Linked DNA regions of Homo sapiens. The protein of the gene in region 2 interacts with the protein of the main gene of each other region in a biochemical or structural test. Each region holds a gene or a part of one and is shown on either strand. Other genes may lie near its edges. The genes, in order: PDCD4, SKP2, CDC34, FOXO1, TLE5, ESR1 and ELF4.

What was found.
Region 1: of the proteins of SKP2 (region 2) and PDCD4, one has a biochemical effect on the other in vitro, tested with the Homo sapiens proteins (one study listed by BioGRID).
Region 3: the proteins of SKP2 (region 2) and CDC34 form a complex in vitro, tested with the Homo sapiens proteins (3 studies listed by BioGRID, with this or other methods).
Region 4: the proteins of SKP2 (region 2) and FOXO1 form a complex in vitro, tested with the Homo sapiens proteins (one study listed by BioGRID).
Region 5: the proteins of SKP2 (region 2) and TLE5 form a complex in vitro, tested with the Homo sapiens proteins (one study listed by BioGRID).
Region 6: of the proteins of SKP2 (region 2) and ESR1, one has a biochemical effect on the other in vitro, tested with the Homo sapiens proteins (one study listed by BioGRID).
Region 7: of the proteins of SKP2 (region 2) and ELF4, one has a biochemical effect on the other in vitro, tested with the Homo sapiens proteins (one study listed by BioGRID).

What each region holds. Positions count from the first base shown.
Region 1 is NC_000010.11:110,874,429-110,878,495, forward strand, and holds part of PDCD4 (programmed cell death protein 4), read left to right. Parts: intron 1-1,537; 5' UTR 1,538-1,599; coding exon 1,600-1,642; intron 1,643-2,241; exon of another isoform or gene 2,242-2,315; coding exon of another isoform or gene 2,316-2,325; intron 2,326-4,067. UniProt on the Homo sapiens protein: Inhibits translation initiation and cap-dependent translation. May excert its function by hindering the interaction between EIF4A1 and EIF4G. Inhibits the helicase activity of EIF4A. Modulates the activation of JUN kinase.
Region 2 is NC_000005.10:36,154,968-36,159,034, forward strand, and holds part of SKP2 (S-phase kinase-associated protein 2), read left to right. Parts: intron 1-4,067. UniProt on the Homo sapiens protein: Substrate recognition component of a SCF (SKP1-CUL1-F-box protein) E3 ubiquitin-protein ligase complex which mediates the ubiquitination and subsequent proteasomal degradation of target proteins involved in cell cycle progression, signal transduction and transcription.
Region 3 is NC_000019.10:538,052-542,118, reverse strand, and holds the end of CDC34 (ubiquitin-conjugating enzyme E2 R1), read right to left. Parts: intron 3,442-4,067; coding exon of another isoform or gene 3,129-3,441; exon of another isoform or gene 3,083-3,128; intron 781-3,082; coding exon 567-780; 3' UTR 32-566; downstream 1-31. UniProt on the Homo sapiens protein: E2 ubiquitin-conjugating enzyme that accepts ubiquitin from an E1 ubiquitin-activating protein, and catalyzes its covalent attachment to other proteins by an E3 ubiquitin-protein ligase complex. In vitro catalyzes 'Lys-48'-linked polyubiquitination.
Region 4 is NC_000013.11:40,656,190-40,660,256, forward strand, and holds part of FOXO1 (forkhead box protein O1), read right to left. Parts: intron 1-4,067. UniProt on the Homo sapiens protein: Transcription factor that is the main target of insulin signaling and regulates metabolic homeostasis in response to oxidative stress.
Region 5 is NC_000019.10:3,059,605-3,064,457, forward strand, and holds the start of TLE5 (TLE family member 5), read right to left. Parts: upstream 2,892-4,853; 5' UTR 2,597-2,891; coding exon 2,570-2,596; intron 1,654-2,569; coding exon 1,556-1,653; intron 1-1,555. UniProt on the Homo sapiens protein: Transcriptional corepressor. Acts as a dominant repressor towards other family members. Inhibits NF-kappa-B-regulated gene expression. May be required for the initiation and maintenance of the differentiated state.
Region 6 is NC_000006.12:151,946,974-151,951,040, reverse strand, and holds part of ESR1 (estrogen receptor), read right to left. Parts: intron 1-4,067.
Region 7 is NC_000023.11:130,072,498-130,076,564, reverse strand, and holds part of ELF4 (ETS-related transcription factor Elf-4), read left to right. Parts: intron 1-1,812; coding exon 1,813-1,984; intron 1,985-2,356; exon of another isoform or gene 2,357-2,407; coding exon of another isoform or gene 2,408-2,423; coding exon 2,424-2,516; intron 2,517-4,067. UniProt on the Homo sapiens protein: Transcriptional activator that binds to DNA sequences containing the consensus 5'-WGGA-3'. Transactivates promoters of the hematopoietic growth factor genes CSF2, IL3, IL8, and of the bovine lysozyme gene.

The DNA.
Region 1 (4,067 bases), on a different chromosome or scaffold from region 2:
GAATGTAGCCTTTTCAGCCATGAAGGATGCTGAGTGTTTAGATTTGCAAACCATTTTTGTTCATATATTTATATGAATCTCTACATATTTTTAAGATTTTTTTTTCATATCTAAAGTTGGCGGGAGTTATAGTGAAAAGTGATTATAAAGATTCACATATATTAATTTATTCTTAACAGAATTAGAGAATGATCTCACCATTTTCTTAAGTTCCCAAGCAATATGATAGCATATTAGTCTGAGGATTATACCATAGTAAGAAGCCTATAATTTTAACATAAGGTCCATTTGTTTTTGTTTCACAAAATAATACCGTTTTCTGAAGAAAAGGGCTATAAACTTATGTTAGCAAATAGTAGTACATAATGAGGAATTTAAAAGTCAGTTTCACCTTTGAGTCCCAGGAGGCTCTGTATATATCATTGTTATCCTAAAATGACATCTAACAGTAGGTTAAGTTATATAGGAAAAAATGTGCTTTTCTGTAATTAATTTATTAGGCATTTTCACTAATTTGTGCATTTTATATCTCTGAAGAGCACACTGCTAGCAACCTGATTGTAAATGACCAGAAGGACTTATATCCAACCTATGTGACTTAAACATACACTTAAGTACTCTAAACCACTATTTAAAAAATACTTCTAGAGAGATTCTGAAATCTTAATTTGGTTGCACTTTCTGGTAATATATTTTTTGAAAACTATTTTGATATTTCTTTCATATAACATTATTGGATCTGTATCACTAAGTTAATTGTCTAAAAGGTAACTGATTTCATCAAACCTTCCAGTATTAATAATTTTTAAGCCATTTTGAAACTGAGGCCTAAAATACTGAAATGCTTATGTCGTTGTACTTACTCCTTTCTGAAATGATCAGATTTTTAAAAAATGGATTTCTCATATAAATAATATTATCAAAAAAGGATTTCTCATATAAATAATATTATCAAAAAAGCTGATTTTAAAAGTTTCTCCCAAAGTCTTATTCTAGTAATTATAGAGACCTAGGTAATGAGTGGCAGATATATCTGCCTTTCAGATATGCCGTAATGTGAAAAATAACACAGTCATGTGATATTCTTTATTAACTAAAACTGTGTTGTTTTTATTTTGGAGTAGTTCTCATAATTCATTGGTAGGGAACTATCCAGTATTTATATTCCTATGTATGTATATCAGATTAATTTTGAGGCTTGGTATTCCTAAAAGATTTGGATGTGTGTATTTCTTTAACTTGACGTAAACATGTATCACAAACATATCTTTTAATTCCAATTAAAGGGGTGCTTTGGCACATGCTGAAATCTGGGATTTTTTTTTTTGACTTTGATAAATTTATCAAAAAGATTGGAACCAAATGTTAATTAGGGTAAGTTGTCTTTGAAAGTAAAGTGAACTGTTTTATTTAATGGAATTGTGTGTTTTTTGTTGTTGTCGTTTGTTTTTACAGTGTGCTTAAGTAAGTTTAATTCAGCTTAATTACATCAGTTTAAAAGATCTTGAAGCTTTCTTTTTTTCTTTTAAAAAAACAGATTCTGAAGGAAGATTTCCATTAGGTAATTTGTTTAATCAGTGCAAGCGAAATTAAGGGAAAATGGATGTAGAAAATGAGCAGATACTGAATGTAAACCCTGCAGGTAAGTAAGGATATCCTTTTTTCTTTTTTTCTTCGTTTTGAGACAGGATCTTGCTCTGTCACCCAGGCTGGAGTGCAGTGGTGTGATCATGGCTCACTGCAGTTTTGACTTTCCTGGGCTTAAGAGATCCTCCCCTATCTCAGCCTCCTCAGCAGCTGGGACAACAGGTGTGTGCCACCACACCAGGCTAATTTTTTATTTTTTGTAGAGATAGGATTTCACTATGTTGCCTAGGCTGAAATATCTTGAAGCTTGACTATGTTGTGAGGAAGCTTCAGACCATTCCATATTTTATAAAAACATGATAGAAAAACTATCTTTAAATACTCTTTTATTCATGCTGTAAGAAAACAGGCTATATTATTTTTAAAGTCAAGTTTGTGATTTTTATTTTCATGGAAATTCATTACATGTCCTATTTTTCTGCCTATCCTTTCACATTCCACATATTCCTATTCTCTGTTATATAGTACAGAATAGAGAAGAATAGTGAGCCTGCTTATTTTCACATGGGCTAGTTAGTGATTTCTGTAATATAAACTTACTGGTATCTTTGGTATCTTTCCTAACAAATAATTTTTATATTCTAAATTACCTAGGGTATTTTCCCTAATTCTCCATGGTGCTTCAATAGCATGTTATTATCATAAAAATGAACAGTTTTGTGGAATAGATGACCAAATGTGAGTAACTCAAGATAATTTAAAATGTATTTATAGTTTTAAAAATAATCTCCCAAAAAGTTAATTAGAATTGTGTAATATCTGAATAGTGAGAACAGTTCATATTGGTATACTTTGGATAATTCTTTGTCTTATAATTTTATTAATATTGAAAGCTATTTTCTGTCATTTTAAGTGTATTTCGTAACTAAATACTACATCTTTCTTTCCTCAGTGACTTAACTCACTATTGTTTACAATGTACATAGTTTTCTTTGATCTGAACAAACATGTTGAATTTGAAGCTTCTTTACCATTGTTTATTTACAGATCTTTTTAAAGTATGGTAAAAAATTGAAAAAAATTTATGTAATTAATGATCATTTCTGTGCTGCTGTATACAATAGCTGTATGAGTATGCTTTAGGGTTATAAATGGATAATATGTACCTACTTAATTGAGATGGGGATGGTAATACAGTTTAGAATATATTTTACATATAGGTAATTGCTTCTTTTCTGCACTGTCCAGTATGGTGACCACTAGCTACATGTGGTTATTACTCCTGGGCTCAAGTGATCCTCCCTCTTCAGCCTCCTCAGTAGCTGGATTACAGGCGTGTGCACCACTGTGCTTAGCCACATGTGTTTGTTGAGTACTTGAAATGTGGCTACTCTGAGTTGAGATGAAGGTCAACTATCTCAATAATTTGTTATATTGCTTGCATGTTGAGATGATATGGTTATATTAGATTAAATAAAATATATTTAAATTAATTTCACCTGTTTTTACTTTTTAATGTGGCTACTGGAAAATTTAAAATTTCTTATATGGCTTGCATTCTATTTCTATTAGAAATAGAAACACAGCTTTAAAATGTGTACTTTTTGTTTCCTAACTACAATAAGACCTAGTTCTAACCCTGTTCTTGGTGCTTGTGTCCAGCACTGCTTTAAAATAAAAGACTTGTTCTTCAATATTTGAATAGGCCTAAGATAGACCCTCTTTGTAGTAAATTCTTCACATAGCAAATAGTCCAAGTCACACTCTTACTCTTTTACTTGGAGGAAGTAGGTTATTCTGACCTTCAGTTTTTTCATGTATAAAATTGGGATATAAATACCCTCTGTATAGATTTATAATTAGGATTTAGTGAGATATTGTATATGTGTGTTAAGTCTGTGAAGCACATACTAGGTATGTAATACATGAAAGTGTGGTAATGTTATTCTAATTATGCCACTCATTGGACACCAGTAATTGAAAATGTGATTTTCTGGTGCTGTGGTCATATACAATTGGAGTGGTTACTATTGAGATATCAGAATTCAGAAAGAGGGAATTAGTACACAGTAGGAAACAATTTTGAAGTCAATCACATTCTGTACTCAGCTTATCATTTTAATTTTGGTTTTCTTAAAGTCAGCTCAATAGGGGTTATGGAACTCCAACAGTTAGGTGAGTATGAGTAACAAAATATAAAGCAATTAATACAAACATGGGTTAAAAATGATAAGGTCAAATATATAAATTATACTGAGAGAATGTTTACTGCTGCAGAGACACAAACATACTTGAAAGGATGTTAAAATTGTTGAAGAAAAGAAAACTCGATTATGGGAAATAGATGTATTTAAATTGAATACTCCAAGGGACAGTTTAAGACATTTTATTATAGTTCTGACTCCTGTGTCTTCTGGACCAGTTTTGTGGTTCACCTTAATGGCACAATGATGAAAGCACTATGTTACAGGTAGATGTTT
Region 2 (4,067 bases):
CAGGTGGGGGATGATGGCGAAGAAGAAACAGATTAAACATTTAAAGATGAAGTCTTGCAGACCCAAGGTAATTTAAGTATATTCATAAATTCTCCCATCTGGTTTCCTTTGCAGAAGGGTTGATAGATTGGTTGTTTAGTTGATTGGTTGGTTGCTCGCTTTGGCAGCACATATACTGAAACTGGAAATACAGAGAAGATTAGCATGGCCCCTGCGCAGGAAGACATGCGGATTCGAGATGCATTCCACTTTTAATTAAGAAAATAAATACGTTTGTTTTCAGCCTTTTCTTTAGGAAAGAGAACTTTGCCCAATTTATGGTCTGGGAATATACATCAGGAATTGGATTAGTTAGAAAAGCAGTAGAGGGTTGTAGTGAAGTCAGATCTGGGTTTGAATCCTCATTCTTGCGTTTATCAGCCTTGGAAAGTTATTCGAGCTTTCTTTGCCTTAGTTCCTTTATCTGTGAAATGGAGTGCTGTAATAATACCCACTTCACAGGTCGTCGTGAAGATTAAATGAGAATGACGTAAAACCCTTAGCATGCCACTGACACGTAACAATACATAAGCCAACAAAATTCCTGACACCAATTTTGGAGGCTAGTGGACTTTTATCTTTTGTTTTTAATATTGTTACTCTGACCCTGTTAGTATAAAATTTTTTTTCTTCAAAATTTAATGTTCACCGCTCTTCTTTGTGTCTGGAATGTAGCCCTAACAATCTGGTGCTTGACCAACCAAATATGGCGAAAGATACTTCCTGCTAAGATGAACAGATTTTTATTAACCTGTCCAGTGCCGATAGCTTTTGACATAGAGTGTGATTGCTATATGCCCTTCCACAAGTGAAAAAGAATTTTTTTTAAGCAAGGCACTGTGGGAACAAGACAGAAGTTTCCGGAGTCTTTGCTATTTCCCAGGAATTTGCAAGTCAAGTTGAGGAGAAAATACAATAAAAAATAAGAGCTGTGATTCCCATTCAGGTGGATGTGGAAGATCTTCCTCCTTCCACTCAGCAAGAAAGGAGATTCTGAGGAAAGAGAGGGCTCTGAAAATGGTGTAATCAGTGTCTTGATGGTTAAAGCTGACTTCAAAAGTATATATCTGAAGGGAGAGAGAAAGAATGGTGACTTTTATGTTTATTACCTAAGGAGAGGCACAGAGGGAAACCAATGTACGTGGACTTACAACAGAGATTGCTTAATTGGTGTGGAGTGGGGAAGGGTGAAATCAGTGATGCAGGATGAGGGACAGCTGGTATAGAGGATTCCCAATGGGCCTTTGGAAGCCTGGGCCTCCAGTGGAGCCGGATTGTCATTCCAAGGAGTTTTGTCTGCAGTTGTCAGGACAGGTGGCTACTAGCTTTGCCAGGATTAGGGTAGAACAGGCCACACCTGCTGTACATAGATATCTGATGACTGGTTCTGGGCTGCAAGTTTTTGTTGGTTCTTTGCTAAGCAGTTTCTCCCTGCAGGCCCCAGTCCAGCCGTACATCTGGCAACTAAATCCTCTTCATCCGTTTATCTGGGAAGATGAAAGCTCTGTGGCCAACCTGTACTAGAACAGGTCTGATTGGCCCTTGGAGTGAGTGTATGGAAAGAGTTGGGGAGGAAATGGCCCAGCAATGAGGTCAGTAACAGGCGGAAAGGGGACAATTGCATTTTATTTATGGTCATGAAATGCTTGTCCCCCACCCCACCCTTTAAACAGGTGATAGCCATGAAAATGGAGGTGAACTAATTTGTTGATCAGCTCTTCCATGACTCTTAAATGCTTGAAATTCCAGACCCTAAAGTGGTTGTCAGACTGGAGATACTAAAATTTACTGTATATCAGAATCCCCACAGGAACTTGTTCAAAGTGTAAAATTCCTGAGATTCTGATCCGGGGAGTCCTGGCCTGAGTGAGCCTGGGAATCTGTGTCTTAATACCCTTAGGCAAGCATTTTTTCCAACTTTTTTTTTTTAACCAGTAAGAAACATATTTTACATTGCAATCCTGGGTATGTATCTGAAACAGCAGTTTTACAAAACTGTATTTCCCCTTACTAAGATATTTTCTATTCTGTTCTAGTTCATTCTTTATATGTACATATATGCTAGTCAAACCCACTAAATTGATTTCATGATCTATGTGAGTCTCAGTCTACAGTTACTAAACTCAGCACTGGAAGAGCCTTTATGGGATCTTCCCAGTCATCTTTCTTTGTTCCATAGCTTCCTTTCATTCATCCATTAAGCAAATATTTCTCAAGCACCGTTTTAGAGGTTGGGACTACAATACTGAACATAACAGGCAAGAGACCCTGCCCTCATAGTGCTTATACACTGTTCCATATTTTTTCCAAATCCCAGCTTCTGTTGTTTCTTCATTACACCCCCTACACCTCAGGGTTGAGCAAGTCTTTCATAGAAATAAAGGGTTGTGGGACTGAAGGGGTACATGGGGGAATCCTTGTTAAGTTTGGCTGTGTTTTGTTTTTTTCAGTTTTGCCCACCTTAGCCAAAAAAACAAAAACACCCAAAGCCAACATGGCCTCAAATGTATTATTTATGGTTTGTGGGAAGAGGAAGGAGAACTCATCTGGGATGGCACAATCTGTTTGTAGTTCCCCAGAAAGAAAGCATGGGGTATTGCTACTTAAAACAAGCCAGCAAAAGCAATTCTGAGGTGAGCACCCCCCAACTCCCTGAAAGAAATGCACACACACACAAAAACAAGTATGAGTACCAGGTCCTCAGTATACATTTCTGCAAGTATAATCTGATTATGCTTAAAGAGCAGCAATTTTTTAAGTCAAAAGTTTGATTATGATTAGCATTACTTTGGATTTTCAGCTTGAATCTGAGTGGAGTGGAGTGATGTTCTGAGAAATAAATGAGTGGAGTGATATTCTGAGAAATAAATATGTCAAGTAAGATGAGTTACCTACACTGCAAAGATGGAATGCATAGAAAACTCTCCAACAAGGCCCTCTTCCCAGAGAATTTCAGGAAGCATGAGATGTGATAAGGTTACAGAAGTGGGAAACTGGGTTTGCACCTGAGAAATAATTGGAAACAGTGGTAGGTGAGGGTGATTGTAGTAGGTTTGCTGGTTTGGCCCAGTTTTTGCCCTTTCCTGGCCCTGAAGTATATTTAACTGCCGTCCATGTCATTGAAGACTGGAGACCTTGGGCTCAGTAATTATGTCTTTTAATGTGGGTCTGGTATGCAGCTACAGCCTTGCTGGATTTAGCAGAGACAAGTGGAGAAAAGACCTCTGGATTTTTCCTTCCGCTCTCTGCAAACAGACCAGGCAGCAGTTTCATCATGAATTCAGGAAACAGATGGCTAATGTTTTGAGAATTAAATATGGCAAGGAAAATTAGATTAAGCATATCACAGCCTGGATGCCTATTGCTAGAGCAGCTATTAAAGACAAACTTCTGCCCCATCTGCTGGGACAGCAGCCCATATCAGGCTGTGGTACCCCCACCCGGGGCCCCTAGGATTAGTGTCATTCTGTGGTCAGCTGAGTAAGAGCACTGGGTACTTGGCTGCTAGCTGAGTATGTGTGTTTTCTAGGACCTTGCTCCTTCCATTTGGTGGTGAACCCATTGATAGCATCTTTGTTTTATTTTCTCTCTCCTCCTCCACTCACTCCCTAGCCCTGATTGATTTCTGTTTCCATAGCAAGTCCGGGTTTAATTCTCACCTTTTCAAAATTTGTACTTACAACAGAGGAGAGCATAGAATATTAGAACCCACTAGGATGGAAAGGGCATGATTTGAAATCAGACCTGAGTTTAAATTCCCCCTCTGCCACTTACTGATTGTGTGACCTTGTCTCTTTTATCATAGTTGCATGTTTTCTTGAAGCCCCAGCCCCCATCTCCCAGAGACTACAGCTATACTGATAGAGGACATTCCCTTCTGCTCTGGGTTTTTGTCTTCAGCCTCATCCCCTCCATATGCCAACAGTGCTGTGCACATAGTCGTTAATTGGTTAATAAGGGTTAGCCATTCACACTAATAAAGAATTAGCACATTCACCATTTGAATGAAGAGGGCTAATAAATACATT
Region 3 (4,067 bases), on a different chromosome or scaffold from region 2:
CCTCTCCCTCCCAAGCACAGCTTCTCTGGCCTCTCATAAAGTAGTTTTATTTAGATTTCAAACAAACCAAAGCAGGGAAAAGAGTCGGCCACGGTGAATCCGTCCACTCTGTGCTGGACGTGGCTCCAGGACCTGGAGCTGACAGGCAGGACCGGGCCCCTCGGACCGCTACACCTGGGCCTCCCAGGCTGGTAGTGTCAGGAAACGGCCCCCCGCCCACGTTCCCAGCAGCGCCCCCGTGGCTCCTCCGGGGTGCGGCCAGTCCGGAAGCTGGGGGACCCCGGTAGAAGTCGGGCTCAGCTCCCCTCCCGAGGGGACAGGTGGGCCGGCCGCTCCCACCCTGGGCCCGTCCACCGAGCCCCGAGTGACGTGAGTGGCGGTGGGGCAGCCCCTCTTCTCTGAAGCACGTGAAAACCCAGAACAGACATGGGGAGGGAGAAAAAGCCAAAACGAAACAACCAGAGGAGACGGGGACCAGCACAAAACCTCCGTGAGGTAGTCTGTCGTCTAAGGAGCCACGGGTCCGGCCCTAGTGAGGTAAACTCGGCAAGTTTATTCTGGTGGTGTCAGGACTCCTCCGTGCCAGAGTCATCCTCATCGTCCCCGAAGCAGCTGTCGGCCTCCTCCTCCACCTCGCCGTCCTCGTAGTAGTCGTCGTAGAAGAGGTCTGAGCCCTCGTCGGGCGCCGGCGCCTTGGTCTTCACGCAGTACTCGGCCAGCGTGGTGGGCACCTTCACGCCGTCACGCTCCGCGTCCACCTTGGTCCCCAGGACCTGCTTCCTGGGGGGACAGGGTGGGTGAGGGCGCCACCCACGTGCCTGGACTCGGCCCCTGCCCGGCCCCCCTCCCCCAGGTCCGACGCTCACCCCAACGCTCAGGTTTCTCTTAAAACGGCGTGTGGCGACCACTTAGGACAAAGCCCTGTGCGTGAGGAACTCCAGGGGGAGAAATGACAGAGGAGGGGGCTCGGGAAGGGCAGGAGGTGCGGGTGGGAGGCTGGACGGGCGCAGTGCAGTCACACCCGCCTGCCCCGCCCCGAAGCACAACCCAAGGGACCCATCAGGAGCTGGGAGAAAATAACGATGCCGGCAACAGGGAGGGCCCATGCTGCCCCACTGGGGGGCAAAAGCCTTCCTCAGCGCAGGAGCAAAGGAAGCAGCTGGGAGGGCCCAAGGACAGGAGGCAGGACCATCCCTGGAGACGGGAACCAGCACAGGTGAGATGGGAAACGCAAAAACGGCCTGAGCCTCTCCGTGGCCTCAGCAGGATTCTAAACCCGGGGGCCTGGCCACCCCGGCCTCCGGATTCTAAACCGGGGGGCCTGGCCATCCCAGCCTCTGGATTCTAAACCCGGGGGCCTGGCCATCCCAGCCTCCGGATTCTAAACCCGGGGGCCTGGCCACCCCGGCCTCCGGATTCTAAACGTGGGGGGCCTGGCCACCCCGGCCTCCGGATTCTAAACCCGGGGGGCCTGGCCACCCCGGCCTCCGGATTCTAAACCCGGGGGGCCTGGCCACCCCGGCCTCCGGATTCTAAACCCGGGGGGCCTGGCCACCCCGGCCTCCGGATTCTAAACCCGGGGGGCCTGGCCACCCCGGCCTCCGGATTCTAAACCCGGGGGGCCTGGCCACCCCGGCCTCCGGATTCTAAACCCGGGGGGCCTGGCCACCCCGGCCTCCGGATTCTAAACCCGGGGGGCCTGGCCACCCCGGCCTCCGGATTCTAAACCCGGGGGGCCTGGCCACCCCGGCCTCCGGATTCTAAACCCGGGGGGCCTGGCCACCCCGGCCTCCGGATTCTAAACCCGGGGGGCCTGGCCACCCCGGCCTCCGGATTCTAAACCGGGGGGCCTGGCCACCCCGGCCTCCGGATTCTAAACCCGGGGGGCCTGGCCACCCCGGCCTCCGGATTCTAAACCCGGGGGGCCTGGCCACCCCGGCCTCCGGATTCTAAACCCGGGGGGCCTGGCCACCCCGGCCTCCGGATTCTAAACGTGGGGGGCCTGGCCACCCCGGCCTCCGGATTCTAAACCTGGGGGGCCTGGCCACCCCGGCCTCCGGATTCTAAACGTGGGGGGCCTGGCCACCCCGGCCTCCGGATTCTAAACCTGGGGGCCTGGCCACCCCGGCCTCCGGATTCTAAACCTGGGGGGCCTGGCCATCCCAGCCTCTGGCAGGAAGGGAGGACAAGTTAGCTCAAACTTCCTGGAGGGCACCGTGTACACCCGGCCCTATGAGGGGCTGCACCGCGCACACCAGGACCTACGAGGAACCTGCCCCCGGCTCCACCTCCAGGACACGCGTCAAGAATGTCCCCCCAGGACTGGAAGCAAAGGGGCTTCCGGGGGTGGCACAGCAGGGCCAGGCGGCACGCTGACCCCATTTGACAGAAAACAGGAACGAGGCTGCAGCCGCAGGCAATGGGCTCGAGCCCCTATCACCGACCAGGCACGGCTCTGGGCTCTGGGGCTGGCTGCTACCAGGGTGTGCGGGTCCCACAGTGCCCGCATGGGAGGGCACCAGGGAGCAGACAGACAGCCCCAAGCCCAGCCCACAAGCCCAGTGCTTTTTATGGGGATGCATGACGCGTGGAGGGCAGGCGTCTGGCCTCAGGGACGTCCCTGGGTGGCGGGACCCAGCGGACGCCAAGCTTTGCTTTCCAAGCTCTCCGATGGGCTGGGGGGGTGACTGACAGTGCCCCGGGGACGGCACTGCACGGGTGGCAGCAGTGGGGAGACGCAGGGGAGGGCCAGGGTGGACGGGCTGGGGGGGTGACGGTGCCCCGGGGACGGCACCGCAGAGGTGGCGGCTGTGGGGAGACGCAGGGGAGGGCCAGGGTGGGAACTGACCTGCACCGTGGAGGTGCCGCCGGCACACCGCCAGCATGAGCTGGAGGACGGTCTGGAGGTCCTGTTCAGCAAGACCAACATCCCTGACCAAGCCGGGCTCCACGGCAGCCTGCCCGACACAGCTCAGCGGGACTTGGGCTGCCACGAGGCCAACACGCACACAGATGAAAAAACAGGCAGAAACGGCGACCACAGCAGAGTCCACATGGCACATGTGTGTTGGCCCACAGGGAGTTTTGAGGGATAAAAATAGTGTGGCTTTTATTTCTGTGCTGGGATCTCAAGGAGGTGGTGCCTCAGGGAGGTGGCCGGGAAGAACCGGGCCAAGGAGCCAGCCACCTGGGCCAGGTGACACGACCGGACCGGGGCCACCGAGGACATCTGCACCAGAGGGACGGCCAGGGCAGCTACCCTGTGACCTCCAGAGGCCAGCAGGTGCTTGCAGGCCACTTCCCAGGAGGCCGCACGGGGCCCGCCCACCATGGCTGCTCAGAGCCGAGACCGCCCAGCACCAGGATGCTGCCCCGAGATGACCCCACGACACCAGGTACCAGCGAGTGCAGGATGGAAGGTGCCCTGGATGCTCCTGGGTCCTGGGGCGAGGAAGACACATGCATTATGTGTGCAATATTTTAAAAGTTGTTTTTAAGATTCTGTTTATACAAAATACCAACAAAAATAGGTGAGGCCTCTGTGAGGAAATCTATGCAATATCACTCTGAGAAAAAAAAAAAATGGATAGGAAGGGCCTCTATGTAACAGGAAGAGCAGGAACCATTAAGGCCGTCAACCCGTAAAGAAAGCCTTGTCTTTGTACACAGACACGCACGTGTTTACACATTCATGTGAACACAGGCACCCAAGAGAAGGGGCTGTGGGGCTCAGCTCTGGGGCATGAGGGCGATGGGAGGAGAGGGAGAGCCGTGGGTCACCACACACAGCCACGCAAGCTAAGTGGACTGCAGGTACAGAAGGCGCCGGTAGGCGACTGCACAGCTGTACCCAGAGCTCACCAGGCCAAGAGCCTGCAGGGACGCACTCCAGACATGAGTAAGGCCAACACCCCTGACTAACAGTCAGTCACTGGGCACACACAGCACGACCCCATTTTTTCATTAAAGCACAGACACATGTTCCCTAACAGTCAGTCACTGGGCACACACAGCACGACCCCATTTCTTCATTAAGGCACAGACACATGTTCCCTAACAGTCAGTCA
Region 4 (4,067 bases), on a different chromosome or scaffold from region 2:
TCATTCTTGCATTTGGGTTAGTGGGAAGATAATTATTGCAATAAGAAAGCCATCAAGGATATCTAATATTTAGCTAAGGCAATATTAGAACTGACATTTACATTTTGAAGTATCTTTTCAAGCCAATATAACCTTCCCTCATAATTGCCTTAAGTATATTTTGAAATTGCTGACTTCAATTCAGAATTTCTCATTTTTCAAAAAAGCAAGACTTAATTTAATAGTAATCTTTCTTTCTTTGAATCACTCTGCTACCAGGACACTGGGCCTCACTGAAGTTAATTTTAAAGAACAGATCAAGCAAAAAGCTAAATACATTGTAAATGCCAACTATTCACATTAAGTCAATTACATAATCTGTTCTATGTATTGCCAAATTCCGTATGTCAGTTTCAAAATCAACTGCAGTACACTGGCTATAAATTGCATTCCATAGGTCTCCATATTTACACAAGTGTGTTCCTAAGTAGTTGCATTTTAAAATTGTTTAATGTAATCATATTTTCATAATTTCTTATTTGGCAAAAACAAAGATATCATTTGATAAATTTGGTCCATAACACAGCATTATTTTCATAATATGTCCTTTCTACCTATACTTTTCAAACTGTTTGTGTATTTCACATGCCTATCACTCTGAGAAATTTTTTTTTTTTTTTGAGACCGAGTCTCTCTCTGTCGCCCAGGCTGGAGTGCAGTGGCACGATCCAGGCTCACTGTAAGCTCCGCCTCCTGGATTCACACCATTCTCCCGCCTCAGCCTCCCGAGTAGCTGTGACTACAGGCACCCGCCACCACACTTGGCTAATTTTTTTCTGTCTTTTTAGTAGAGACGGGATTTCACCGTGTTAGCCAGGATGGTCTCAATCTCCTGACTTCGCACTCAGAGAAACTGATGCTTCCCATATTTTCAGGCCTTTATGAATGCCAGTCCACCATCCCAAAAATATATCTTGAAAATAAGATGAACTAATGGACAGAAAGATGTGCATTTACACAGATATATGATCAAGCAAGCATAATGAAATGTCATTAGTAGAAAAGGTAGTAGAAATTCTTCCAATTTTGCTGAATGCTTGAAAATTTTCATAGCGAAATCGTAAGGGAACAATCTCCCATCCTTTTTTTTCTTTTTTTTTTTTTTTTGAGATGGGAGTCTTGCTGTGTCGCCCAGGCTGGACTACAGTGGCGTGATCTCGGCTAACCGCAACCTCCACCCCTCCAACCCCCTGCCCCAAGTTCAAGCAATTCTCCTGCCTCAGCCTCACAAGTAGCTGGGACTACAGATGCATGCCACCACACTCACTTAATCTCTTCTATTTTTAGCAGTGACAGGGTGTTGCCATGTTGGCCAAGCTGGTTTCTAACTCCTGACCTCAAATGATCTGCCCACCTTGGCCTCCCAAAGTGCTGGGATTACAGGCATGACCCACTGTGCCAGGCCCAATCTCCCATTTTCAAAGCCTGGTTCAACGGCCAATACAGAACTTCATTTTTCTCTAAGACACTTAACTCTTCCCACTGTATATCATAGTTACTTACACATTGCATCTAGTCTTCCTACTGGATCTATGTTTTGAGTCATTGCTACCACTCAAAAACACCTAGCACATCTTGTACACAGTAATTATTCAACAAATAAATGGAAAAAAAAGGACTCTGACAATCTGTTGAAAACAAAATAATCACTGTTCTTTAGTTATACTACTTCTTAAATTATTCTCACATGATACAGACTGTGATATTCTCAACACACAGGAAGCTGAAATATAAAAGACCCATGTATCAAGAAAGAATTTTTTTCCTAACAACATATTTACAATGTAACTGAGAAGCCAAGACATACAGACATTAAAGTTAAATTATATATAATACACAGCAGCATGAATTAAAAGATTACCAGATATTCACTCAGAGGACAAAAATTCCTCTGGGTAGGAGCCAAGATTGGAAGTTGGTGAACTGACTTGAACCTTGCACACTGAGCAAGATCTGCTGAATTTCAGGGCTCAAGATGATCTAAGCTCTGGGGACAGGAGCGTCTAGGCCTGAAATACTAAAAGCTAAACGAGGGGAATGGTTAGCGGGTAGGAACGGAAAGTCTCAACAGACCCTGAGAAAGAAGAGTTAACAGACTTGGGAACACTAAACACCAGGAGAGTGCTCAAGAAGACACCAAGGTTTGAAAACTAGGGAAAGAACTAACTAGACCATTAACCCAACTGGGGACCTTGAAATGAGCCATCTGAGGGCAGGGGGAAATACAGTATGTTCAGTTTTAGACATGCTGGATTTGAGATAAAAGTGGGACCTCCAGAGCCTTTAGGTAACTGGATACACAAGGCAACAGAGAGTAAGTTACCTAAGAAAATACCAGAGAAAAAGTCCACAACTAGTCCTGAGGTATACTTATGAATGAGGATAGGAGAAGGAAAAATAAGCGAACCAACTGGAGAAGCCAGATGGCAGGAGGACCATTGTAATGGAATCCAAGATAAGAAACGATTTCTCAAAGCAAAGCTAAGAAAAGGAAGACGTGGCCGGGCGCAGTGGCTTACGCCTGTAATCCTAGCACTTTGGGAGGCCGAGGCGGGTGGATCACAAGGTCAGGAGATGGAGACCATCCTGGCTAACACGGTGAAATCCCGTCTCTACTAAAAATACAAAAAAAAATTAGCCGGGCGTGGTGGTGGGCGCCTGTAGTCTCAGCTACTCAGGAGGCTGAGGCAGGAGAATAGCGTGAACCCGGGAGGCGGAGCTTGCAGTGAGCCAAGATTGCACCACTGCACTCCAGCCTGGATGACTGAGCAAGACTCCATCTCAAAAAAGAAAAAGAAAAGAAAAGGAAGACTTAGGCTGGGCCCAGTGGCTCACGCCTGTAATCCCAGCACTTTAGGTGGGCAGATCACGAGGTTAGGAGTTCGAGACCAGCCTGACCAACATGGTGAAACCCTGTCTCTACTAAAAATACAAAAATTATCCAGGTGTGGTGGCATGTGCCTGTAATCCCAGCTACTCGGGAGGCTGAGGCAGGAGAATCACCTGAACCTGGGAGGCAGAGGTTGCAGGGGGCTGAGATCACGCCACTGCACTCCAGCCTGGGTGACAGAGCAAGACTCCGTCTCAAAAAAAAAAAAAAAAAGAAAAGAAAAGAAAAGGAAGACTTAGACACACACACGCCCAACTCTCATAAAGAGTGTAGCTTCAGGGATCATCAGAACAAAAACCAGAATTGGGGGCTACACAGGCTAATTCCCTAAACAGCTCTCCCTTGATTTTTTTTTTTTCCTGTAATGAATATGGCTTGAAATAAAGGACACATTTTGAACTTATGTCCTTATTAAAGTAATAAGTGAAGGTAAAAATTCACTAAATTGTATGATGAGGAGCTGCAGATTTACCTTTTTAGTAGTATTTGACTTAATATCAAAACTAACTTGCTTTTTTGTTTTCCTTTTTAGTTTTTATCAAAACTATACAAAAATGGATGAAAGAAAAAAAAAGTAGCCCAAATGCCTGCCAAGTAGCAAGAATAAGTCAACCCTAGATTCAACTATTGGCGGTGCTTAACCTACAAGTTGATAAACCACAGGGAGAAGACGGAATAGAGTAAACTGGGATGCTAATGAATAAAGCAAGTTTTTAAAAAGGCTGAACCATATAAAATAGCCAACGTACAAAAATGTGTTTTTCATGTTTCCTATGTTCCTTAGAAGACTACAAATAACAAGTAGTAATACCTACAAAAGAATTTCTGTGCCACTGACTTGATTTTTGTTCATCCTCATCAGCAACTGGCAAAGAGGAAGATGTCTTCCACACTCTAAGTATTTGTACACAGCATATCCCTTAGGCATCAAAATACATACTTTTTCAAGTACATGTGGTCTTCTGTTTCACAGCTGAGGAACACCACCAGAAGCATCAGAATTCTTTATGTACCAAGAAAAGGTGCTTGGTTATATGACCCCAGGGAGATCCTGGGGGGGCTGGGCAAGTCTCTGCAAGTTGTTGCTACAAAGGCAAAGGCAAATCTTGAACTGCAGGGAAGCAGACCAACTCCCACA
Region 5 (4,853 bases), on a different chromosome or scaffold from region 2:
CCCAGGGGCTGTTACGCCTCGAACATCCGGTGTGTGCCTCTGATATGGTAGGGTCCCTCGTTGGACAGCAGGAAGCCCAGGCCCAGCGGATGGAGACCCCAAAGCTCAGAGAGGGCTTCCGGCTTAGCAGAGGTCACACAGCACTGTGACCGCCATCTGATCCCTTCCCTGTGGAATCAGGTCAGCCCCGGGGCTCACCAGGCGGTATCCAACCCTTCATATCGAGGAACCCGCACAAAAGCTTCTGGGGCCTGCATGGAAAGCTGACTCCAGCACCTTCGACTGTCAGTGTCTCAGTTTGCCCAGCTTGAGAATGGGTACGACAGTCGGACGACAGGAAGGATGAAGCACGAGGAGGCACGAACGGTCTTGAGCACACAGGGAGTACCCAAAAAGGTGGGATATTTGCAGCAGCAACAACAAAATCGAGATTCCCCTTTCTACTTGGAGGAAATCCAGGATCCTTCCAGGAACACTTCTGGGGTGGGCACGCTTCAGTTTAGAGAGGGCCCCAAGGCCAAACGGGGGTTTGAGCATAGCCTGACTTTCTCCAGATTCCCAGGCCCGGCGTGCCCCTCCAGAGCAGGGCAGGCGAGAACCTATATCCTTAAACCAGGAGAGAGACCTGGTGCAAACCTCAGCCTTGCCACTTCCTCAATGCTATGGACACCCCCGAGGAAATAACATCATAACATCTCTGGGCTTAAGTTTCTTTTTTTCTTTCTTTTTTTTTTTTTTTTTTTTTTTTGAGACAGAGTCTCCCTGTTACCCAGGCTGGAGAGCAGTGGCTCCATCTCTGCTCACTGCAACCTCCGCCTCACGGGTTCAAGCAAGTTTCCTGCCTCAGCCACCCGAGTAGCTGGGATTACAGGCGCCCGCCACCACACCCAGCTAACTATGTATTTTTGGTAGAGACGGGGTTTCACCATGTTGGCCAGGCTGGTCTCGAACTCCTGACCTCAAGTGATCCACCTTCCTCGGCCTCCCAAAGTGCTGGGATTACAGGCATGAGCCACCACGCCTGGCCTGGGCTTAAGTTTCTTTAAGTGTAAGAGGACTAAATAGTTCCTTCCCCTTAGATACCGCAGCGTGGCAAGCTCTTCAGAAACGCCAGATTTCTGAAAGAAGCAGCACCTTGGAGAATCTGACGGGTGCTGGGAACCCTTTCTCCAAAACTGGGCAAAGAGAGAGATGACCAGGCTGCAGAATGTTTCTGTTTTGGGGGTTGAGGGATGGCGAGTCCGTGCCGTAACTCCAATTGTTGGAAGGTCTTTTATCCAATGGGGGACTTGGGGGTATTGGGGAGGAGGGAGGGGCTCTGAAGCCACACAGCTGAATCTTTGGGCAAATTATTTAACTATTTTTGTGCCTCGGTTTTCTCCTCTACAAAATGGGGCTGTTTAAAATAAATGAATTCAGTATTTGTCAAGTGATTAGGTCAGAGTCTAGCATATATTATTTTCCCAATCTCCAGGCCTCAGCCTTGCCATCTGCGCAGAAGAAATGGGGGGACTCACATTCTCGGGACGCAGGGACCCCCAGTCCCCCAGCTCACCTGTGGTACTGAGCTTGCAGTAGCTGAAATTCGTCTTTGATGCGGTCGCAGGAGTCCGAGGTGGTGAATTTGAGTTGCTGGGGTAGGTGCGAGGAGCCCTGTAGGGATGGGGCGGCCCGGGTCAGGCCCAGGCGTGGGCTGGACCCCCCTCAAGGGCCGGCTAGGAGGGAGCGGCCGCGCAGCTGCGGCGCCCCCCCTCCTGCCCCACTTCCTGGGCCCGTGTTTACGGCCCCTGGCGCGACCCCACCCGCGCTTCCTGCCCCCCGCCTCTCCCGGGGGAAGCCGAGCGGGTGGGTGCGCCCGGAGCCGCCCCGTCCCCCGCCACCCCCAGGCAGTGGGGGTGCGTTTTAAGGCCCGCCCTAGATGGGGGGCAGGGTGCGCCCTCTACCGCCCTCCAAAGCGCCGGGAGGGAGTGCACATCCGAGGGGGGTAGAAACGCGCCCTAGGGAGCCCCCTCCCCAAGTTGGGGGGCAGCGATTCCTCCCTGCAAAGTCCTCTTGGGGGAGGGGTCTCTCTCTCGGTGCTCGAAATCTTCCGGGGGGGCCCAACCCCAGATTCCCAGCGCCCTTCCTCGGGGACACGCTCTTCCGGGAGGGGTGCGCCTCGGATCACCCCCCCCACCACAGGCCCCCAAAGGATCCCCGGGCTAGAGGTGCCTCGCGGGGCTTCCGGAGCGCCCCAGGCCCGAGGCCAAGGCCGTCCGAGGCCCTGACTGTCCCGGCGGGTTGGGGGGGGGGGGCGCCAAGCCGGGAGCTGCGGCGGGGGGGCTCGGGGCCCGGAAGCTGGGGTGGATCGGGAACTGGAGGGGGGGTGTCCGGGGGCCGGCGGCAGGAGGGGAGGGGGGTCGCGCCGGGCTGGGAGCTGGAGAGGGAAGACAGGGCCGGGGAGTTGGGGGGGGCGCCGGGCCGGAGGCACCGGGCCTGGGGGTTGGGGGGCGCGGGGCCGGGAGCCGGGGGTCGGGGGCGTAGGGCCCGGATCCGGGGTGGGGGCGCCGGCCGGACGGGCCCCGCTTACCGAATGCCTGCTTTGTGGAAACATCATGTCAATCGCGGCGGGGGGCGCGGGCTGCGCCCCGGCTGTGCGCCCCGGCTCGGGCTGCTGGGGGCGCCGGGCGGCCGCGCCTTTGTCCCGGCGCCGATCGGCAGCTCCCGGGGCCGCCGCCGCCTCCCGCGCCCGGCCTCGCCCGCTTCCTGCGCCCCCTCCCCGCGCGCCCGGCCCCGGCGCGCCCCGGGCCCCGCTTCCTGCGCGCCCGGCGCCCCTCCCCGCCCCTCCCCGCCGCCCGCCTCCCCGCTCCCCGGCCCCACCGCTATTGTCTAATGGCGGCGACGCCGGCAGTGGCCGCGGCTCGGCTGCTGCGGAGGCTTCGGCTCCACCTGCCGCCGCCCGTGCCCCGTGCGCGCCGCCGAGGGGGGGGACGCGCGCGCCCGGGGAGGCCTGCGGATCCCCACGCCGGCCCGCCTCCCCGTGGCCCGCCCGCCGCGGTGACCTTGGGCCCGGCCCGCCCCCGCCCCGGGCAGCGGCCCCCGCCACCCTCTCCTACCCGGCAGCCGGCCGGGCCTCGGTTTCCCCATCTGTCAAAGAAAAGGGACCCGGCTGCCCGCGTCGAAGCCGCCGGCCCTGCTGTGGCACGACCTGGACGCGTGCCACGGACGTGCTCTGTGACCTTGGCTCTGGCTGGGCGGTGGTTCTTGCTGAGCCTTAGTTTCCTTTTCTGCAGAAAGGCAGCGGTAATGCCGCCTTCCTGAGGGAAGCCATTCTTGTGACACATTTATAGAACGCCTACTGTGTGCCAGGCCCCGCTGCTCCAGGGCCCTGGGGTGGGGCGGGGCGGGGGTGGGTCCCTGCCCTGGTGGTGGTGCCTGGAGACAGACAGAGACAAATTCACAAGCTGAATTCCTGGCAGGTCAGATGGTGGGGACAGTTCTGCAGAAAAACCAGCCGGGAGAATGGCAGGGTAGGAAGGTGCAAAGTTAAAGAGGTGGGAGGGAGGATCAGAGACGGCTTCCTCCACCCCTAAAGCGACCTGAAGAAGGAGGGAGAACAGGGGGATGGGGTACAGAGGTAGTCAGAGGCAGGACCAACAGGTGCAAAGGCCCTGGGGCAGGACTGTGCCTGGCAGCAGAGTGCCCGGGGGGAGGTCAGGAAGGCCGGAGGGAGGCAGGGCCGGGGGCTTCGTGCTTTTGTCCAGGGCCCCCCCACCCCACAGCAGGGCTTGTGCTTGGGTTAATATTTACTGCTGCATTTTGAGATTTCTAATCATTTTTGAACAAGGGGCCTTTGAGTTTTCTTTTGCACTGGGCCCTGCTAACTCTGTAGCTGGTGAAGCAGGCCAGTCCAGCAAGGACTTGTGGGTCTTGGGGAGGACTTGGGATTTTGCTCTGAGTGAGGTAGGAGCCCTGGAAGGCTGTGGGAGGAGGAGGGACGGGACCTGGTGGTTGGTTGGTTTGTTTTTTGAGATGGAGTTTCGCTCTTGTTGCCCAGGCTGGAGTACAATGGCACAATCTCAGCTCACCGCATCCTGGGTTCAAGTGATTCCTGCCTCAGCCTCCCGAGTAGCTGGATTACAGGCACGTGCCACCACGCCCCGCTAATTTTGGAGTTTTAGTAGAGACGGGGTTTCTCCATGTTGGTCAGGCTGGTCTTGAACTCCCGACCTCAGATGATCTGCCCGCCTCGGCCTCCCAAAGTGCTGGGATTACAGGCGTGAGCCACCGTGATCAGCTGTTTGTTTGTTTTTGAGATGGAGTCTCACTCTGTTGCCCAGGCTGGAGTGCAGTGATGTGATGTTGGCTGACTGCAGCCTCTGCCACCCGGATTCAAGTGATTCTCCTGCCTCTGCCTCCTGAGTAGCTGGGATTACAGGTGCGCATCACCACGCCTGGCTAATTTTTGTATATTTAGTAGAGACAGGTTTCACCATATTGGCCAGACTGGTCTTGAAATCCTGACATCAGGTGATCCTCCCGCCTCCACCTCCCAGAGTGCAGGGATTACAGGTGTGAGCCACTGCGCCTGGCCCTGGACTTGGGCTTTTGCTCTGAGTGAGGTGGGAATCCTGGAGAGCCGTGGGAAGAGGAGGGATGGGACCTGGTGGCGGTTATTAAAGGATCCCTCTCTCTGCCACGCAGAGAACAGGTCCCAAAGAGGCTACTGAAATAAGGCTATGACATTAAGGTCCCCCTTTGGCAGGTGCGAAACACAGTCTCTTCATCATCGTCATCCACTAGGCAGCCTGCTCCCTTGAATGAATGCAATTGATTTGGGCCTTGGGTGTTCCCATCTGTAAAATAGACTTGGA
Region 6 (4,067 bases), on a different chromosome or scaffold from region 2:
CTTCTAAGCCTGTTCAGTGAACTACTTGGGCAGGCAGAAGAGAAATATACAAGAGTAAATGATTAGCCAAGTCTATACTAGATGAGCCAAACCTTCCTCCTTAAATCAATAGCTCCTTATTTCTTTTGCCTCAAAAATACAATAGAAGAAAATTCTATTTTTAATACACTTTGTATTAATTTCCTAGGGCTCCCATACAAAGTATCAAAAACTAGGTGGCTTCAAAAACAACAGAAATGTACGCCTCACAGTTCTGGAGGCTAGAAGTCTGAAATCAAGGCCATACTCTCTCTGAGGGGGAGAGTCCACTCTTGCCCCTTCTAGTTTCCGATGTTAGCCAGTAAACCTTGGCATTTCTCAGCTTGCAGACCCAGCACTCCAGTCACATGACCGTCCTCTTCCTGTGTCTCTTCATATCATCTTCTTCTGTGCATGTCTGTTTCTATGTCTAAATTTCCCCTTTCATTAGAATGCCAGTCCTTATTGGATTAGGGCTTGTGCTAATGACTTCACTTGAAGTTGATTACCTATATAAAGGCACTATTTCCAAAGAAGGTCAGATTCTGAGATACTGGGGGTTAGGACTTTAACATGTCTTTTTGAGGAGAGACAACTCAGCCCATAACACACTTCAATCATAATCTATCTATTACTTAAAACACACATTCTCCATGCCAAATCCCCCTGGAAGTAGCAAAGCCACAGGCCAACATTCCCCACAGGGTGCCCTGGGGACACCACAAGTCCACTACGTTCAACATAAACACACACTGACCCAGACTCACTGTATTAGTCTGTTTTCACACTGCTCATAAAGACACATCCCAGAGTAGGCAATTTACAAAAGAAAGAGGCTTAATGGACTTACAGTTCCATTGTGGCTGGGGAGGCCTCACAATCATGGCAGAAGGTGGAAGGCACATCTCACATGGTGGCAGACAAGAGAAGAAGAGCTTGTGCAGAAAAACTCCCCTTTTTAACACCATCAGATCTCTTGAGACTTACTCACTATCACAGGAACATGGGAAAGACCTGCTCCCATGATTCAACTACCTGCCATGGGTCTCTCCTACAACAGATGGGAATTCAAGATGAAATTTGGGTGGGGACACAGGCAAACCATATCACTCACTGACACAGAACCTGGAGGAGGGTGGGCAAAATGCCCCAGACATGTTTCTCAAATACTCTCAAGATGAGAAAGGGATTTTTAAAGGTTTAATAGCATCCAGGCCAATAAGCATCTATGAGGCTTCAAAGTTTCATGTGAAAGAAAAATCCAGTCAACAGCAGCTGCTTTCCTTGCGTTTCACCAGAGCTTCCACGGGAGCAGTAGAAAGCTGGGTGGGGTGACTTGGACATGGAACACTTGCAAAAAAGCTGCATATTGCCAGTCCAGAGGGGCTGCCATCATGCCTGCTAGGGCGATTCCAGCCCAATCCTAAGGCTCTTATTATACAGTGGGTGCAAAATCTAAATGGCAAATCTTGTCCTTAAACAGAGGCTTCTGTCATCTCTCCAGGATGTCACCCATATGTCCATGTCATGTTATCTTTCATTACCTTGCCAAAGCATGCTGGACACCACAACAGTTTGAGAGCAGGGTTTACTGGTCCAATGACAGGTTGGGAAGCAGAGTGCTGGGAAGCCCTGCTAAATCTCTGAAATCTACAGGAACCTCCCAGAATTGAGTGTGTTCCTTGTAGATGCTCCCAATTCCCAGACTGAGGTATTACACCTTCTCCGGGAACCCTCATCCCTACCCACTTTAAGTTTCCAATTTCATTCGCTAAGTGAAACTCACTTGCAGATAGAGTTGAAGCCTGCTAAAGTCCTCAGAGCGCATGGCTCCATATTTCTCTAGCTGTTTCTCTGTCCCTTACAAAAGAGAGATTGGAAATGGAAATAGAATCTCACTATGGTGGCTGTCAGGGAGATATCAGAACAGCAGGTAGATTTTGAGGAGAGGAAAAAGGAGAAATGTCACAGCCTTAGAGAGCAGTTCTAGTTTATGGGAAAATTGAGCTGTAACAGGGCTCAGAGACTTCTTAAAATTAAGACTTTCAAAAATCACCTTTCATTTGTTCATTTATTCATTTATTCAAGCACTTCCTGAGCTCAAATCTGCTCATTTTAATGATGAGGATGAGGATGAGAGGCAGAGAAGTGAATTCCTGGATTCCTGGGGAATACAGACACAGAAGAGGCCTTGAGCCCTGGAATAACTCACACAACCATGCATCCTCGAGACAACACAGAAACTTCCAAGAAATCTGAACTTGGGGCTGGTGGGAGACATGTCCAGAAAGAGGAGATTGCCTACCCCTGGGGCCAAAACTGAGCAAGGAGGCAACCTGAAGTAAATGACAGGGAGTCAGGACTGAGGAGGAAGAGGGGCCTTCTAGAGTGTTGATTAGAGGGGGACTCGGCAGGAAAGGGGAAGGAGAAGGTCGTCTAGTTTGCCACTAAAAGAATGAGGAAGTGGTTAAGGTGACATGTTTCACAGGAAGCCAAGCTGCCACTGAACTGCCCCTTTTCCTCTTTTCCTCTTCCTGGGCCAACACTCTGAGTGCACTCTCCCAGATCTGTGCCCAGCAGCAGTTCATGAGGCTGCTACACTTTGGGTTATAAGTATTTAACAGGCAATAAAAAACTCAGGGCTAGATATCTATCCAAATCTTCATAAAATATATAGAACTATAGCACAGACTTGAAGTATAAAATTGCTTTCGAGACATGTAAAATTATGGTGAATTTTGGAAAGGGCTTAACTTTCAATAAATCAAAATGACACTTTGGTGACACAATTCAAGCTTCTGGGGAAAAAAACTCAGATGTATTTCATTAACACTGAAACTAAGAATGAACCACTCAATGATGCAATTGAGTGTGATGCTGAAATCAAAAATACAACCACTCTTGCAGTCATATTTTTTCCTTTTTAACCTTCAGCTCAATGATATTACATTTATTGACTAGTTTCACCATGTGTAAAATAATAGTAAATTAAGATTTAATTATCTACTTTTAAAAAAACTGAATTTCTACCCAGGGATAAGGCTATAAAATTCCTATTAAATATAAACAAATTTCAGAGCAAACAATAAGGAGAAAAGTCTTCTCGATAGATAAATATCAAAAAGTAGATACATAGTATGTGTTATAAAAAAAACATCTTTTGTCAGAGCTGGCTTCATAGGTTTTATCATTCTTGTTGCTACTGTTGTTTTTAAACTGCAAAGAGAAAAAAAATCATTTCTTAAGGTCATCTTTATCCAGGTCTACCAGAAGTACTTTATGGATTGGAACTTGACTCTCACACTTGTATGATGCATTCTATCCCAAAGCTCTTCACATCTTAATTCTGAGTAGAGAAACATATCAAGTCAAAAAATAAGCCCCAGGGGTTAATGAAAAGGAAAATTCAACTTATAATCATCAACATTTGAAAATTCTGACAATATTCTGTTAATTAAAAGAAAGAAGAAAGAAGCACTTCTAGAGCTACTAAGCCCAAAGTATTGACTATTTTTGTTAAAAATTCATCATTCAAAATGAAGTCAATTCATAGTTTTTGTTATATTGATAGGTATTCTGAGGATTATCCAAATGTTTCATGAGGGTTTTTGTATCATATAGCTAATTCTGGGTATTTCTAGAACTGAAATTTTGCTATTCTTCTTACTAATGACATTTACTATTTCCTTCTTTATTTATTTATTTAGAGACAGAGTCTCATTGTTGCCCAGGCCGGAGTGCAGTTGTGGGGTCTCGGCTCACTGCAGTCTCTGCCTCCCAGGTTCAAGCAATTCTCCCACCTCAACATCCCAAGTACCTGGGACTATGGATGTGTGCCACCAAGCCTGGCTAATTTTTGTACTGTTTTGTAGAGACAGGGTTTTGTCATGTTGGCCAGGCTGGTCTTGAACTCCTGACCTCAGGTGATCCACCCGCCTCGGCCTCCCAAAGTGCTGGGATTACAGGCATGAGCCACTGTGCCCGGCTTATTTCCTCTTTTAAAACTTACTATTATTATTGTCATTCTCAAACTATTATCTCATAAACGT
Region 7 (4,067 bases), on a different chromosome or scaffold from region 2:
AGCTACTCGGGAAGGTGAGGCAGTAGAATTGCTTGAACCTGGGAGGTGGAGGTTGCAGTAAGCCAAGATCGTGCCACTGCACTCCAGCCTGGGTGACAGAGCCAGACTCTGTCTCAGAAAAAGAAAAGAAAAGAAAACTATGATTAACATCCTGGCATATTTATTTATTTATAGAGGTTTTTTCTTTTTAATTTTTTTTTAAATAGAGATAGGGTCTTGCTGTGTTGCCCAGGCTGGTGTGTGAACTCCTAGGCTCAAGCGATGCACCTGCCTCAGCCTCCCAAAGTGCTGGCATTACAGGCATGAGCCACCACATGCAGCCTCTATATGGAGTTTTTTTAAAAAAAACACATGCAGTCATACTGCTTTTTAATTTCGCTTTGCTTAATTTCAAAACACTTCTGTTCTCTAGGGGTTGAATTCTCATCTCAATTTTCTTATCTACTCCAAGGGATTGAACGACCACCAGCTCCCTTTTGAACTGTTAGACACTTATTTTTGACTCCCTGATAGGCGTCTCTATTTCAGATGTCCCAAAGGTACCTCAAGCTCACCACATCCAGACATTGTAGCCCTTATCTTGGTCCACAGCCTGCTCTTCCTCCTCCTGGGCCCTCCCTTGGCATGAGCAGTATCTCCATGTCCCTGTTGAATGAAGCTGGAAATTGAACCCCTCTCCCCCATCCAGGCAGTGACTGAGTCCTGACATTTCTACTTCTATAATGCCTCTGTTCTGTCTTCATTCCCACTATCATTGCCACAGACGGAGCCCGAAGATGTCTGAGCCCCTAACTCTGGCTGCGAACTAGGTCCCCAGCCCTGACTCTAGACTGAATCCCTCTTGTCCCCCGACTATAGGTTGAGCCCCTTGCCCTTGCCATCAGCTGGTCTATTCCCAATGGCCTTAGAATGAATCTAATCCTCATAGACTGAGCCCTAACCTGGCCACGGGTTAAACCATAACTACAACCAGTTAAAAATACTTGCCTGGCCGGGTGCAGTGGCTCACGCCTGTAATCCCAGCACTTTGGGAGGCCGAGGTGGGTGGATCACGAGGTCAGGAGATCGAGACCATCCTGGCTAACACGGTGAAACTCCATCTCTACTAAAAATACAAAAAATTAGACAGGTGTGGTGGCGGGTGCCTGTAGTCCCAGCTACTCGGGAGGCTGAGGCAGGAGAATGGCGTGAACCCAGGAGGCGGAGTTTGCAGTGAGCCAAGATTGCGCCACTGCCCTCCAGCCTGGGCGACAGAGTGAGACTCCGTCTCAAAAAAAAAAAAAAAAGCTTGCCCTTGGCTGGGCATGGTGGCTCACGCCTGTAATCCCAGCACTTTGGGAGGCTGAGGCAGGTGGATCACCTGAGGTCAGGAGTTCGAGACCAGCCTGGCCAACATGATGAAACCTTGTCTCTACAAAAACTATAAAAATTAGCCAGGCATGGTGGCACACACCTGTAATCCCAACTACTGGGGAAGCTGAGGTAGGAGAATCGCTTGAACCCGGGAGGCGGAGGTTGCAGTGAGCTGAGATCATGCCACTGCACTCTAGCCTGGGCGACAGAGCGAGGCTCTATCTCAAAAAAAAAAAAATGCTTAAAGGGCTGGTGGTGCAGAGCTAACCCATCTATTCATCAAGAACCCACTCAAAGCATCACCTAATGAGGCTGGACCCAGAGTTATATCATCCTATACAAAGGACAGTCCCTGATGAACCCAAGAATAAGGACTTGCACAGAGGGCCAGATTCTGGTAGGGAGGGTTTGCTGGAAGAGCTGGGTGGGTCTTGAATCACATCCCTGTCTTCTCCATAGCTGGAAGACCCCTCTGTGTTCCCAGCTGTGATCGTGGAGCAGGTACCCTACCCTGATTTACTGCATCTGTACTCGGGACTGGAGTTGGACGACGTTCACAATGGCATCATAACAGACGGGACCTTGTGCATGACGCAGGATCAGATCCTGGAAGGCAGTTTTTTGCTGACAGGTCTGTTCCCTTCCTGGGCAGAGAAGGTGTGGTAGAAAAAGGGGCTGTGTCTTTAGGGAACAGCAGCCCACAATGGCCTCTAGTAACCCCGTGCAGAATGGGCAAGTCCACCAGCCAAAAAGTTGTGCTGCTTCACAGAGGAGGGAACCATCTTAGTAGATTCATGGTCTGTGGAAGTGGGGTGGGACAATGAGGAGTGAAGACCAGCTGAGGGGGTGGAGAGTTAGGTAAGGAGGGGTGCTGGGCCCTTCCTGGCTGTCCCTCAGTACCTCTGGTCAGGGTCCCCTGTTTCTCCCTCACTTAGCACTCACTTCAGGGTCAGCCCGAAGGATGCTTACCACCATCCTTTCTTCGGGCTGGCCCTGATTATAGCTGTACCCCCTGCCTTGTGCCCTGAGGGAACTTTTCTTCTCTCCTCCCACCATGGAACCCGGACCAGATGACAATGAGGCCACCTCGCACACCATGTCAACCGCGGAAGTCTTACTCAATATGGAGTCTCCCAGCGATATCCTGGATGAGAAGCAGATCTGTAAGTTTGAACCCCAGTGCCTGAACTCAAGGCAACAAAATAATTCCATTTAAAAATATGAAATCCATGTATTGGTTTCTCAGGCATGTGTGCACACAGGTATACATGCACCACACCCACCGATATACATATGACTTTTATCTTTTTGTATTTTGGTGATGGGTTTATTTCAATTAGCACGATGTCCTCAAAGTCCATCCATGTTGTAGCACGTGTCAGAATTTCTTTCCATTTTCAGGCCAGGCACGGTGGCTCACGCCTGTAATCCCAGCACTTTGGGAGGCTGAGGCGGGTGGGTCACCTGAGGTCAGGAGTTCGAGACCAGCCTGACCAACACGGTGAAACCCCATCTTTACTAAAAATATAAAAACTTGCTGGGCGTGGTGGCGCAAGCCTGTAATCCCAGCTACTCAGGAGGCTGAGGCAGGAGAATCACTTGAACCCAGGAGGCAGAGGTTGCAGTTAGCCGAGATCGCACCATTGCACTCCAGCCTGGGTGACAAGAGCGAACCTCTGTCTCAAAAAAATAATAATAATTTATTTCCATTTCAGGCTGAATAATATTGGCCAGGGTGCCTTTCTCAGGCCCCTCTGCTCTTTTGCTTAGCTCCCAGGAAGACTGAGATATGCAGCATGTGGCTCTTTTAGAAATAAGTGATCCAGGCCGGGTGTGGTGGCTCACACCTGTAATCCCAGCACTTTGGGAGGCTGAGGCGGGTGGAATACGAGGTCAGGAGTTCGAGACTGGCCTGGCCAACATGGCAAAACCTCGTCTCTACTAAAAATACAAAAATTAGCCTGGCGTGGTGGCACATGCCTATAATCCCAGCTACTTGGGAGGCTGAGGCAGGAGAATCGCTTGAACCCGGGAGGCAGAGGTTGCAATGAGCCGAGATCACACTATTGCACTCCAGCCTGGGCAACAAGAGCAAGACTGTCTAAATAAATAAATAAATAAAATAAAGAAATAAGTGATCCTTGCCCATCCTACCAGGCTCCTAACTCCCCAGAGGGCCCCCAAGGCAGGCTCTTCCCAATGACCCCTCAGGCAGATGCACAGGAGGGTTCCCCCAGATTGCCTTCTCCCAAGGGGTGGTGTGGTACAGTGAGGGAAGGCAAGCCATAAAGCTGAAATCTGAGAGATTTCTAGTCCTGACTCTCACCAGTATTCATCCAGGATCCAATAATGGGTGCCTATTTGTACCGGGCACCAACTTGCTGTGTGACCTTGGGCACATGACTTCCCCTCTCTGGGTCTGTCTCAGTTTCCTCATCAGGAAAACACAGGAATGGGGCTACATGATCTCTAAGGCCCCTTTGAGTCGTAAAATGAGCCAAGGACTAAATCAAGGTGGCCCTTTACCTGGGGTGCCGCCTAGAACTTCCCTACCACCAACAGTGGGCTATAAATGTGGCAGCTGTAATTGGGGCCAGCTTGTGCCCACAGCTCTGCAGATGTTTCCTCTCCTCGTGGTACAAGCCACATGAGGCATTTTCAGGTGTATCCTGTGTCTGGGGCTGGGGGGATGAGCCCCCCGCCCTCCCTTGGAA